Regions from separate parts of the Homo sapiens genome. Here regions 1 and 2 are each linked to region 3. Evidence: fine-mapped expression QTL. A gene starts in region 3. Each other region holds a variant in brackets. All regions are shown on one strand. Distances are from middle to middle.

Region 1 (4,236 bases), 68 kb after region 3:
GCCTGCCTTGGCCTCCCAAAGTGCCGAGATTGCAGCCTCTGCCCGGCTGCCACCCCGTCTGGGAAGTGAGGAGTGTTTCTGCCTGGCCGCCCATCGTCTGGGATGTGAGGAGCCCCTCTGCCTGGCTGCCCAGTCTGGAAAGTGAGGAGCGTCTCCGCCCGGCCGCCATCCCATCTAGGAAGTGAGGAGCGCCTCTTCCCAGCCGCCATCACATCTAGGAAGTGAGGAGCGTCTCTGCCCGGCCGCCCATCGTCTGAGATGTGGGGAGCGCCTCTGCCCCGCTGCCCCATCTGGGATGTGAGGAGCGCCTCTGCCCGGCCGAGACCCCGTCTGGGAGGTGAGGAGCGTCTCTGCCCGGCCGCCCCGTCTGAGAAGTGAGGAGACCCTCTGTCTGGCAACCACCCCGTCTGAGAAGTGAGGAGCCCCTCCGCCCGGCAGCTGCCCCGTCTGAGAAGGGAGGAGCCTCTCCGCCCGGCAGCCACCCCATCTGGGAAGTGAGGAGCGTCTCCGCCCGGCAGCCACCCCGTCCGGCAGGGAGGTGGGGGGGGGGTCAGCCTCCCGCCCGGCCAGCCGCCCCATCCGGGAGGGAGGTGGGGGGGTCAGCCCCCCGCCTGGCCAGCCGTGCCGTCCGGGAGGGAGGTGGGGGGGTCAGCCCCCCGCCCGGCCAGCCGCCCCGTCCGGGAGGTGAGGGGCGCCTCTGCCCGGCCGCCCCTACTGGGAAGTGAGGAGCCCCTCTGCCCGGCCAGCCGCCCCGCCCGGGAGAGAGGTGGGGGTGTCAGCCCCCCGCCCGGCCAGCCGCCCCGTCCGGGAGGGAGGTGGTGGGGGTCAGCCCCCGCACCCGGCCAGCCGCCCCGTCCGGGAGGTGAGGGGCGCCTCTGCCCGGCCGCCCCTACTGGGAAGTGAGGAGCCCCTCTGCCCGGCCAGCCGCCCCGTCCGGGAGGGAGGTTGGGGGGTCAGCCCCCCGCCCGGCCAGCCGCCCCGTCCGGGAGGGAGGTGGGGGGGGTCAGCCCCCCTGCCCGGCCAGCCGCCCCGTCCGGGAGGTGAGGGGCGCCTCTGCCCGGCCGCCCCTACTGGGAAGTGAGGAGCCCCTCTGCCCGGCCACCACCCCGTCTGGGAGGTGTGCCCAACAGCTCATTGAGAACGGGCCAGGATGACAATGGCGGCTTTGTGGAATAGAAAGGCGGGAAAGGTGGGGAAAAGATTGAGAAATCGGATGGTTGCCGTGTCTGTGTAGAAAGAAGTAGACATGGGAGACTTTTCATTTTGTTCTGCACTAAGAAAAATTCCTCTGCCTTGGGTTCCTGTTGATCTGTGACCTTACCCCCAACCCTGTGCTCTCTGAAACATGTGCTGTGTCCACTCAGGGTTAAATGGATTAAGGGCGGTGCAAGATGTGCTTTGTTAAACAGATGCTTGAAGGCAGCATGCTCGTTAAGAGTCATCACCAATCCCTAATCTCAAGTAATCAGGGACACAAACACTGCGGAAGGCCGCAGGGTCCTCTGCCTAGGAAAACCAGAGACCTTTGTTCACTTGTTTATCTGCTGACCTTCCCTCCACTATTGTCCCATGACCCTGCCAAATCCCCCTCTGTGAGAAACACCCAAGAATTATCAATAAAAAAATAAATTAAAAAAAAAAATAAATAAATAAATCCAGCAAAAATAAAAATAAAAAATAAAATCCCCTTGAATACATTTGAGGTAATGTTGTAGTTTTCAGCTCCTCCCACGAGAGATTTTATGGAGTGCCTAACTGTGCTACCCGGGTGCTGCTCCTGTCGTTAGTGGTGGCACCCAGGAGGAATTAAAATTACAAGAGTGTTTCCTTCCAGATGTTGTTGCTACAGGCTCAAGGTGCTCTTTTAACTGGGACATCAGGCTTTCTTGAAATAGACAAGAATTCTAGAAACATGACATTGTGCCTGATTCATCGCTTCAACTTGCCACTGACTCATTCTCTCCTTGATAGGTTATTCAACAGTAACTTTAATTACATCATTTACTTATTGTTTTCTTCCTTGATTTATTCTCTTTCTACAATTCTTGTTTATCATCTCAGTGATTGGACCATCTCACCTCTGAGACTTGGGTAGAATTCTGTGGACTCTGGAAATAGACATGGAGGTTTTCATGTATCTCTGTTAATGTGTACAAACACCCCCAGGCTTGTACACTTGAAATACATCAGTAGGAAGGGTAGTTCTCAATTTGCTAGTGTTTCACACAGCTTGTCTTATTTAATGATCTCAGCTGCCCTATGAAGTAGATACCATCCTATTAAAAAATGCAGGAGCAGAGGCTCTGAGAGGGGACTGTAACTTACCCAAGATCATGTGGTAGATTGCAAAACTGGTTCCAAATCCCTACCCTTCCCTGTACGCACAC[C/T]TTTTGCCATTCATCTGCAATGTCCTTTTCTGATTCTGGGCTCAGCAATATAACTTGCTCTGGCCAACAGGATAACAACAGCAAATGTGATGTAAGCAAAAGCTTGAGAAATACTTGTGCAACTAATCATGTTTGCCTTCTCTCTTGTACCTGTGCCATTGCCATGAGAACATGCCTGGGCTAGGATTAGAGACACTTGGAGCAGAGCTGAGTCATCCCAGCTGTCCCAGTTGAGGCCAGCCTAGGTCAGTCGATGGCAACCAAGCCCTAAGCATGTTAGTGAGCCCAGCCATGATCAGCACAACCACCTAGCCAACCATCCCAGACCTGTGATCAATAAAGCCTTACTATTCCATACCACCTAGGTTTTGTGATTATTTATTTCACAGAATTATTATGGCAGTATGTAACTGATAGAAGCGGTGTACAGGGAAGAGTATTTGTTAGTCCGTTTTCACACTGCTGATAAAGACATATGCGAGACTGAGCAATTTACAAAAGAAAGAGGTTTAATGGACTTACAGTTCCACGTGGCTGGGGAAGCCTCACAATTGTGGTGAAAGGTGAAAGTCACATCTCACATGGCAGCAGACAAGAGAAGAAGAGCTTGTGCAGGGAAACTCCCCTTTTAAAAACCATCAGATCTCATGATACTTATTCACTATCATCAGAATAGCCTGGGAAAGACCTGTCCCCATGATTCAGTTACTTCCCACCGTGTCACTCCCACAACAAGTGGGAATTCAAGATGAGATTTGGGTAGGGACACAGCAAAACCATATTAGAGCAGATCTCTGGAATTGGGCAGGCCAAGGTTTGAATCCCATCTGTTATTTGGAGTGTGTGTTTCTTTTTGAGACTAATCTCCTTACCCTTGAAATGAGGTAATATACTTCCCTCATAGGGTTGCTGGGAAGATTAAACACGAGGTGAAGTAAATAAAGCCCCAGGGACATAAGCAAAAAATAATGGCTTCTCACAGCAATGCTCCAGAACATACAACAAGGGAATACTGGGCCCAGTCCCAGGACTATCCAAGTGTGAAGCCAACACCTTTTCACATCAACTCCAAGGTAAGGATTAAGAACAGAATGGCCTGGTTCTAATCTTACCATGAAATGCTGCTCCCCTGAATCTTCCATTGCAGTATAGAGAGCAGGACAGGCCTTTAAAAAATTAATGTTGCTTAAATTTAGGAGCCTGAAAAAAAAGCCAAATCCAAGATTTTCCTTTGGACTTGTGGTTTTGCCAGATAGGTGGCAGTGATTTCGGGAAGGAGGGTTGCTTTTGTCCTGGGTATGGGTGTGTTTCAAAGTCCTCCGGGCACAGTTGGGAGCAGGGGCCAGCCTGGCTGCGTTTGCCCTGACTCTGTTGGTTGCCCCTCTGCATGCACATGCATTTTTGATGACAGATCATTCAGGAAATGTGAATGTTTCCCTGGGAGGCTTTGCTTTTTTCACCTGGCCTTCTTTTCTGGGCCTCCTGTGGGGCTGCCCTTTCCCTTCCTTTGAAGCCATTGTCTTCTTGACATGAAAAATGTACTCAGGTACGCTTATGGCTAATTATCTCAAGGGGGAAGAAAAAACAAAATGAACTCAAGGCTGAAATATAGAACCATTAACTCTGTAAACTCTGAAAAGTCATAAGACACTTTTTTAAAATTAAAAAAATACATATACATTTGAAATAGTTTCTTCTTAAACAGATAAACAGAATTAACTTGGGATGTTTCCTACACAATTTAGCTTCCTTCTCTCTCCCTCCACTCCCACCCCAGATAGCTCACTTCCCTTTATCATCTCTGATGCTGATGATGGGTGACAACAGTTAGCTGCACTGTACTCTGCCT
Region 2 (4,236 bases), 51 kb after region 3:
GTGTTGACATTGGAATATGAATTAGGCGAGAGCGGCAGCCAAATATTGGAATTAGGGAAGGCAGGAGCCCAGGCGGGGATCCAAGAGTGGCTGGAACATCTGTGTCTTGGCTGTTCCAGATGCCTGACCCTGCGCCCACCTGAAAACGACGGGTCCAGAGCCACAGACAAGCTCTGATGCAGCCGAGGCTTGGTCCTTGACTTGCCAGCTGAGACTACAACTAACAGTCCCACAGAACTTGGCCCCATCAGCTCGCTGTATTCCGAAGCCCAGGAAAAGGCAGATGCTTCTGCTGTGAGTTGATAGACAGAGGCAAGATGCTGCCCCAGGATGTATTCTTCATCTGATTGTCTGAAATCCCATCTTCAGTGCTCTGTTTCTACTGCTCAGGTCAGCATTTGCAAGAATGTGTTCCACAAAACCCAAGTTCTGCAGGCTGTTAAGAAGTTGTGTGTAAAAGGCGGTTCCATGGCCATGTACTTGGGAGAGATGTTGAACAGAGCTAAGCAGGACTTCCCAGGCAGGGCCTTGAGTAATTTAATAGGCACAGCGATTCATCAGAAGCGGGAGGGATAAAGTCTGGAGTATTTCCTAAGCTTGTTTGACATGTAACCCTGTTCTCATGGAGTATCTTTTTGGACCAGTGCGAACGGATCTAACTGTATTCTAGCAGCTGCTGGTACCTCTGTCCAGGCGCTGGCGTGAGATGGACACTTAATACATATGGATTGAGTCTGAATCTCTCAGAACCTGCTTCCTGTAAAATGGAATAGCAGCACCTGTCCTGAGTGTTTTTGTTTTAATTTTTGAAAGTCAAATGAGAGGCCTGTGTGTGGGAGTAGTTGCAAGCTGAATAGTTGCACATATTTCGGGAATGATTACGATCAGCCCTGTCTCTTCTTTTAACTAATCTGATAAATGTAGACATGCTGACAGTTTTGTGATAATACTCCCCCGCCTGGGGCTTTTCCATTTTCCTCTCCAGGAAGAGGGCCGTGTTTAGCATAGCATTCCTCAGTGTGAGTTCATGCCTTCATGGGCCTTATCACATGGGAGTGCTAGTGGCAAGCTCAAGGCCAGCTTGCTGAGTGGCAGGACAGAAAGGCAGTAGATTCCAGGGCTCTTGACTCCTGAGTCCAGCGCTGTGCTTGTCCCAGTGCTGCCATGGTGCCAGGTGTGGGACAGGACACTGGGGAGGCACGCACGTGACAGAGGCACTTCCTGGACCAGCTCGTGGTGGCACCTTGCCCACCACCAGACACCCCTCCCAGGGCCTGAGCACTGCCCCAAGCTCCCTGCAGGACAGCCATGCTCGAGTCTGGGACCAAGAGTGCTCTCTTTAAGGAGGCTGGGATCTCAGAGTGGGACTCTCAGCATCCAGATACCAAAGGGGGTCGTCCTCTTCCTCCCTCTTTTCTTCCTGCAGGGGTTTCTTGGGCCACAGCCTCACCTTTGCCCATCCCCCTCAGTTGGGAATTGTCTGAATTAAGAGTTAAAAAAGGTCAGATCTTGGAAGGATTGAGCCTCCTCTCCCAGGAGGCCCAGAGAAAACTTCAAGTCATAAACCTATTGTCCTGGAAACCCTCACTTCCCCTAGCTGTGCCTCGGTTTCCCCATCTGTAAGCTGAGGAACCTCATCTAGCTCTAGAAAGTAAGTCTATGGATTGAGAAACATCATAAACTCCTGCCATTTACATATGAAATACTTCTTGTAATTCCCTCTCCCCTCCGTCCACCCTCCTGTGGGGTCCTCCTCGTGTCACTCCTGTGTGATTACAGTAGCTTCCTAAGGTGTCTCCTGGACTCTAGTACTTCTCCTTCACGTCTGCCTGGAGAAATCTTTGTAGGTTCTGCTCTCCTCATGTCCTTTCCCTACTTTCAAACTTGGGATGGCTTCCTGCTGCTCCTGTGTAAGGTCTGTGTCACATCTCTTCACCTCTGCCACAGAGACCACTTGGGATTTTCTAGAGTACTGGAAGTTTTACTCTTCCTAGCCTTTGCTTTTGCCATTTCTTCAGCTAAAATGCCTTTCCTCCTTCTCCTGATGATGACATTTTCTGCAACCTGCAAGACCTAACTTCTTCCCACCCATCTTACTTCTCCTCTTCTCCCTTGATGCTCCTATTGTAAGTGCCTTTGTGCTTTTTTTTTTTTTTTTTTTTGAGACACAGTCTTGCTCTGTCATCTAGGCTGGAGTACAGTGGCACAATCAAGGCTCACTGCAACCTCCATCTCCTGAGTGTGAGAGATTCTCCTGCCTCAGCCTCCCGAGTAGCTGGGATTACAGGCACTGGCCACCATGCCCAGCTAATTTTTGTATTTTTAGTAGAGAC[G/A]GGTTTTCACCATGTTGGCCAGGCTGGTCTCGAAATCCTGACCTCAAGTGATTCACCCGCCTTGACCTTCCAAAGTGCCGGGATTACAGGTATGAGCCACCGCGCCTGGCCTGTGCTGGTTTTTTTTTTTTTTTTTTTTTTGCATTGTATCATAACCAGTTAACGTACTTGATTTTCATCACTATAAATCCCATTGTATGACCAATCATCCCAAACATTTAGCATTTTCCTTAAGTTATAAAAGTAAACCAGGCGCGGTAGATCACTCCTGTAATCTCAGCACTTCGGGAGGCCAAGGCGGAGGATCGCTTGAAGCTAGGAGTTCAAGACTAGCCCTGGCAACATAGCGATAATCCGTCTCTACAAAAAATACAAAAACACTTTGGGAGGCCCAGGCGGGTGGATCACCTGAGGTTGGGAGTTCAAGACCAGCCTGGCCAACATGGCGATACCCTGTCTCTACTAAAAAATACAAAAATTAGCCAGGCGTGGTGGCGGGTACCTGTAATCCCAGCTACTCAGGAGGCTGAGGCACAAGAATTGCTTGAACCCGAAAGGCGGGGGTTGCAGTGAGCCGAGATAGTGCCACTGCACCCCAGCTTGGATGACAGAGTAATACTTCATTTCAAAAAAAGGAAAAAAAAACCCCCAAAAACAAAAAAACTAAACAAATACAAAAAATTAACTGGGCAGGTGGCACACACCTATAGTCCCAGCTACTCAGGAGGCTGAACTCAGGAGGCTGAGGGGAGGATTACTTGAGCCTGGAAGGTCAAGGCTGCAGTGAGCCGTGATGTGCCACTGCACTCCAGTTTGGGTGACAAAGCAAGAGCCCGTCTCTCTTGGGGGCGGGAGGGAAGCGCACTCTTGTAACATCTCCAAATGGTTGAGAAGTAAAGTGAAACGCCCCCCTTCTCTAACCCTATTGGTCAGTCCTGCGACTCCTGGGTAATGGCTGCTAATGGTTCCTTATGTGTTCTTCCGCCCGTACGCCTTTGCATTTTCAACGTGTATGCATGTACCAAAATTGATGTAACTGGCCTCCATTACGGGACATTTAGGTTGTTTTCCATTATCTACTGCTGTAAATAATGCTGCAAAGATCACCTTCAGATTCAAATATTTCTGCAGGCAGCGTCTTAGAAATGGGATTGCTGGGTCACAGAGAACATCCACTTAAAATTTTTAATGAACACTGCCAAACCGTCGTCAGGGAAGACTTCCAGCAAGTCTCGTACTGATGTGGAAATATCTGTTCTCCTCCTTTGAAAGTGGGTCTGGATCTTAATTTGTCGCTGTGGCCCTGGCATGTAGTAGGCTCAGTAAATGCTTGCTGAGTGACCCTACGGGTTATCAAGCCCTGGCTCTCTATTTTCTCAGAAAAAAAGCAGCCCTTCTGCCCCTAAAAAAAGTCTACAAAGTCAATCGTGAGACCAGACCTTGACCTGTTCCGTTTGGCGCTCTGGATTGCGGAGCATACCGAGGAGTCCTGGGTACTTTCTTTGTTAAGTGGGGTGTGTGTGGTTTTTGTTTTCAAAGCTGGCCTGGAGGCTCTGGGTTGCCATGGCAACTGATGAGCAGGGCCGCCTTTTCCCTTCCCTCCATCTTGGGAGCCCTGGTTGCCATAACAACTGATTGGTCCTCTCCTCTTCCTCCACCTCTGCCACAGGGCTCCAGCTTCCCTCTGGGGGCACCACTGTTCTTAGGTCTGGGGCAACCCTGATTTCACTTGACCCATGTACCTTGGGACCCTCTTGAGAGGAGATGTGAGCGAGGCCATTACTGGGGAGGGTGACGGCAGAAAACAGCATGGCCACTGGGAAGGGGAGAGGGCTCAGGTGGAGGAAGAGTGAGGTTCCCTGCTCCGACCTAGCTTGGGAGAATCAGTGTTGCCTGGGGACCA
Region 3 (4,236 bases):
GCTGAGGCCTCTCAAAGCATATTGCTTGCTACTGTCTCAGGCGCTATCCTGAGCTGGCAGAGAGTGATGGTATATTTATTAAAAGACGTATTGTCCTCTACTAAGAGCACTGGCTGGGAAATCAGGACACCTGAGCTCTTGAGAAACAATAAAGTACAGTGGTCGGGCATGTGAACTGTGAAGCCAGATTGCTTGAGTTCAGATCCCAGCTCTGCCACTTATTAGCTGGGTGATCTTGGACAAGTTAGTTAACTTCTCTGTGCCTTGGTTTTTCCCTCTGTAAAATGTGGATTATAATCCCATCTTGTTATGAAGATTAGCTGAGTTAATATGGCTAAGATCCATGTGCCTGGCACATTTTAATCACTCAACAAATGTCAGTTGCTTTTGCTGCTGTTGTTACTATTATTATTACTATTGTTCTTGCCCCGGCTGGGCTCCTAACTTGCTGGGTGACCTTTAGTAAGTTACTTGCTCTCTCTGTGCCCCCAGGCTCTTTCTCCTATGACTGCTGCACCAAAGGAGCTGGGACAGATGAAGTCCTAGGATGCCTAGAAGAGTTGTTCTTCACTGCTTCAGTCCCCATGACCACTCTATCCCCCGTGGCCCCAGCTGCCACTCACCGATGATGATACCGCAGGTGAGCAGGGCATAGAAGGAGGTGGTCTGCTTGAGCAGCAGGTAGGAGAGCAGCACGTTGAAGACGGTGGTGAGTGAGCGGCCCACATTGTAGAAGGCCACACCGACGTACTTGAGGCAGAGGTTATTGAAGGTGATCATGCCGATGAAGACCACCGACAGGGGCAGGACGCTGCGGGCCACCCTGAGGTCCAGGCGCAAGCTGGGGAAGTCCACGGCACCAGGGCAGCAGGCGGCCAGAGCGCTGAGGCCTTTGCACAGCAGCGTGGTCACCAGGCACTGGTAGAAGGTGACGAAGATGGGGGTGTCCAGCCGCAGGGAGGGGCTGTCCAGCAGGTACTTATTAAGGAACACCATGGAGATGGAGGTGACCCAGTAGAGGGAGACCACCAGCGCGATCTGCAATGCCCGCAGCAGAAAGGGCTTCTCCCCGTTGGCCTCTGCCTCTGCAGAGGGGTCTGAGGCCCCGGTCAGCGCCATGTGCAGGATCCTGGACCGCTTCAGAGGGGCCCTATTCATGGTAGCAGAGGAGCTGGGTCACCCCGCGGCCAGAACTCTGATTCCCTGGAGTCCAGGGCAGTGAGCTCACTTGTGCTCTCCGCAAGGAAGCCGCAGCCCTCCATTGTCACATGTGGGCTGGCCTAAAGGCCTCCCCATTGTCCTCATGGATTGAGAAGTTCTGCTTTGGGGTGAGCCCAGTTGTGCTGCTCCACAACCTACTCCCACCCCGAGGGGGCTCTGAGACAAGACACAGGGCAAGGGAGAGGAATAGGATAAGGCGGTGAGGCCAGGACAGAGAAGACCTGTGAGGGGAGAAGAGGCTGGGGCCTAACAGGGAGGGGTCGCAGAGAGAAGGGAGGGGAGAGGAATGGCAGGGCGGGGCAGGAGTAGGTACGCGGGGCGAAGGTGCAGGAAAAGGACGCGTGGCAGAGTGGGAAGAGGTGCCGAGAGGGCGTCATGGGCGGCTGTGGGAGGGAGGGGCGGGCAGGGGGAGGGAGGCGTACAGGGAGCTGCCGGAGGCCGGGCGCGGCTGGAGGGAGGGCTGCGGAAGGGTCAGAGGGGCTCGGGGCTTGGGGCTGAAGGACGCGGGAGGGGGCTGGGCCGGCGCCCACGTCTCGCTGCCTTCCCGGGCTCTGTCGCCGGCTCAGCCCAGGAGCCTCCGGACATCCGAGGCCGACTCCCCGGGAGGCGGGCCCTGGACTCACTTCCTGACACGCCCCCACGTGGCCTTAAAGGGCCCGCACGCCCCGCCTTGCCCTTAAAGCGACAGCCCCAGAGAGGCGGAGTTCGCCAGTCCCCAGCCCCGCCCCTGCGCTCCGCTGCCCGCTGCTGGCGGGGGACCTCGGCAGCCACAGGTTTTTCTGGGTGCTTGAGCCTCGCCCTGCTTCCTGGAAGGGCTCCATCAACCTCGCCTGCCCACCCTCAGCTCCGTCCGCCCCGGAGCCTCCGTCCCCCGACTTGGCTAGGCTTGGCTCGCAGGTCCACTTCCCGGAACCCCGACCCAGGACCCGGGCGGCGCTACATCAGCCTGGACCCCTCCACCTCCGGAGACTCGCGTTGCAGCCCCGCGTCCCTCTGCCAATCCGAGCTCACTCTTCCATAACAATGTTGTGGTCCCCTCCTTTCCCCCCATTTTCACCGCCCCCAGGCCCTCTCCCAAGCCCGAGACCCCCGGCAGCGCTCCCCGAGGCCGGAGGCCACGCCGCCTCTCTCGGACTTCAGTTTGTCCTCCCTGTGCTCCTGTCGAGGTCCTCTGGGCGGCCCGGATCCGAGATTCCAAAGGCTCAAGACAGCATCTCTTACCCCTTCCAGAAAATACTGTTTCCCCGGCCGGTCCAGCCGCATCAGCTCCCGCGTCCCTGCCTGTGTCCCCGGGCCGCGAAGGCGACCTGGCGCTCACCTCCTCCGGTGCACTGGGCGCCCGCCCCGCGACCCCGTGCTGCATCTGCAGCGCCGCACCCTGGGCCGCGCCCGCGGGATCGACTTCCTGCTTTCCGCCCCGGGCCCGGGCACCTTGCCAGCCTCGCCGGCCTGTTCGCGGCATGGGCCCCGGGGGTGCCGGCGGAGAGGCGGTGATCCGGACGGTCGTGGGAGGAGGCCCTCTCCTCTTTCCAAGGCTACTCCTGTCCCTGGTACCCCCGCCCGCCCGGGACCCGGCTTCAGTTACCGCAGCTGGCACGTCCCGGGACTTGGCTGTATCCCTGGCCCGCCGCGCTACCGGCTTGCACTTCCAGAAGTGCGTGCGGGGACCGCTCGGATTCTTCCAGCTGGCAGTGAGGGGGAGGGTTCCCCGCCCCTTCCAGGGCCGGGGCCTGGGAAGTCTAGCCTGTGGTCTGCCACTCACCAGGCAGCCGGGGAGACCAGGAGGATCGACTTCTCTTGGTTCGCGCTCTAGCACCTGCGTTGGGCAGGCCACTTTCTCCGACGGCCTGAGTTATCTTCATGGTAAAACTAAGGGGCTAGGCTTGACCTGTGGGTCCCAACCTTCTTGCCCAGAACTCTAGGTGGTATGGTCGAACATAGATGTTTGTAATATTTCAAGCACCATTTAATTAGTGCCATTTAATTAACGGGTAAGATGATGTCATGGCTGGGATTTGTTTTAAAATACTAAGAATACTTACCAAAAATATTTTTTATTTTTATTTATTTATTCTTTTTGGGACGGAGTCTCGCTCCGTCGCCCAGGCTGGAGTGCAGTGGTGCTATTTCAGCTCACTGCAACCTCCGTCTCCCGGGTTCAAGCGATTCTCCTGCCTCAGCCTCCCGAATAGCTGGAATTACAGGCGTCCACCACCACGCCCGGTTATTTTTTGTATTTTTAGTAGAGACCGGGTTTCGCCGTGTTGGCCAGGCTGTTCTCTAACTCCTGACCTCAGGTGATCCGCCGGCCTCGGCCTCCCAAAGTGCTGGGATTACAAGCGTGAGCCACCGTGCCTGACCTCAAAAAGATTTTTTTTAAAAGGTTGATAGATTAAATAAGATAAGCCATTGATAGTTGTAGCTAGGCGTAGATACACAAGGACCCATTATAAGAGTTTCCTTACTTTTGTGTACATTTGCAAATTTCCAGAATAAAAAGGTAAAACCTATATAGTACGCTTAAACTCTCAGATCCTAACTGCACAAACCTTCACTGGAGCTGAGCGCAGCCCTGGGTGGGCTGTAGGGAAATGGGAGGGCTGCAGGCTGCAGTGAAGTAAACAGCTGCCCCACAACGAGCCGGGCCCACACCCTACCCTCTTCCACTAGCCCCGGGTACTAGCACTCCCCTCTTCCTCCTCAAGGAATGAGACTCTGCTTCCTAGTTGTGGGCTGTTCTCCACCTGGAGGATACCATCTGGTTACCTTGTCACTTTTGGAACTAAAATATCCCTTTGGGGAAAGAAAGACTCAAGAGGGACTGAGCTGGTCTCCTCAACCCCACCTGGAGAGTCTACCTCTGGGATTTTCCTTTGAAGCTGTGGGTTTTGGTTCATTAAGAGCAATTCGTATCTGTTCCAGTCTCTCCTCTCTTATGCCCGAGAGTTCACCATGACAAACAATTTAGTGACAGACAGGGCAAACTTGTCCCTGAGAGGCCCTGGTGATCTGGAA

What was found. PIP is the estimated chance that this variant, and not a neighbour inherited with it, causes the effect.
Region 1: its variant is fine-mapped to the expression of SLC35C1 in whole blood (TOPMed, PIP 0.98).
Region 2: its variant is fine-mapped to the expression of SLC35C1 in whole blood (TOPMed, PIP 0.92).

What each region holds. Positions count from the first base shown.
Region 1 is chr11:45,734,928-45,739,163 of GRCh38, reverse strand. No RefSeq gene overlaps it. Among named protein-coding and RNA genes, the nearest start is that of LINC02690, 15 kb to the left of the region's middle. The variant C/T (reference allele first, on the strand shown) is at 2,388.
Region 2 is chr11:45,751,314-45,755,549 of GRCh38, reverse strand. LINC02690 (long intergenic non-protein coding RNA 2690) reads left to right here and starts at 3,942. Exons shown (of 2, transcript NR_183774.1): 1 at 3,942-4,039. The variant G/A (reference allele first, on the strand shown) is at 2,334.
Region 3 is chr11:45,802,724-45,806,959 of GRCh38, reverse strand. It overlaps SLC35C1 (solute carrier family 35 member C1), which reads right to left and starts at 1,811. Exons shown (of 2, transcript NM_018389.5): 1 at 624-1,811. The coding sequence starts at 1,158. RefSeq lists silencers at 1,557-1,786, 2,517-2,686 and an enhancer at 2,857-3,016.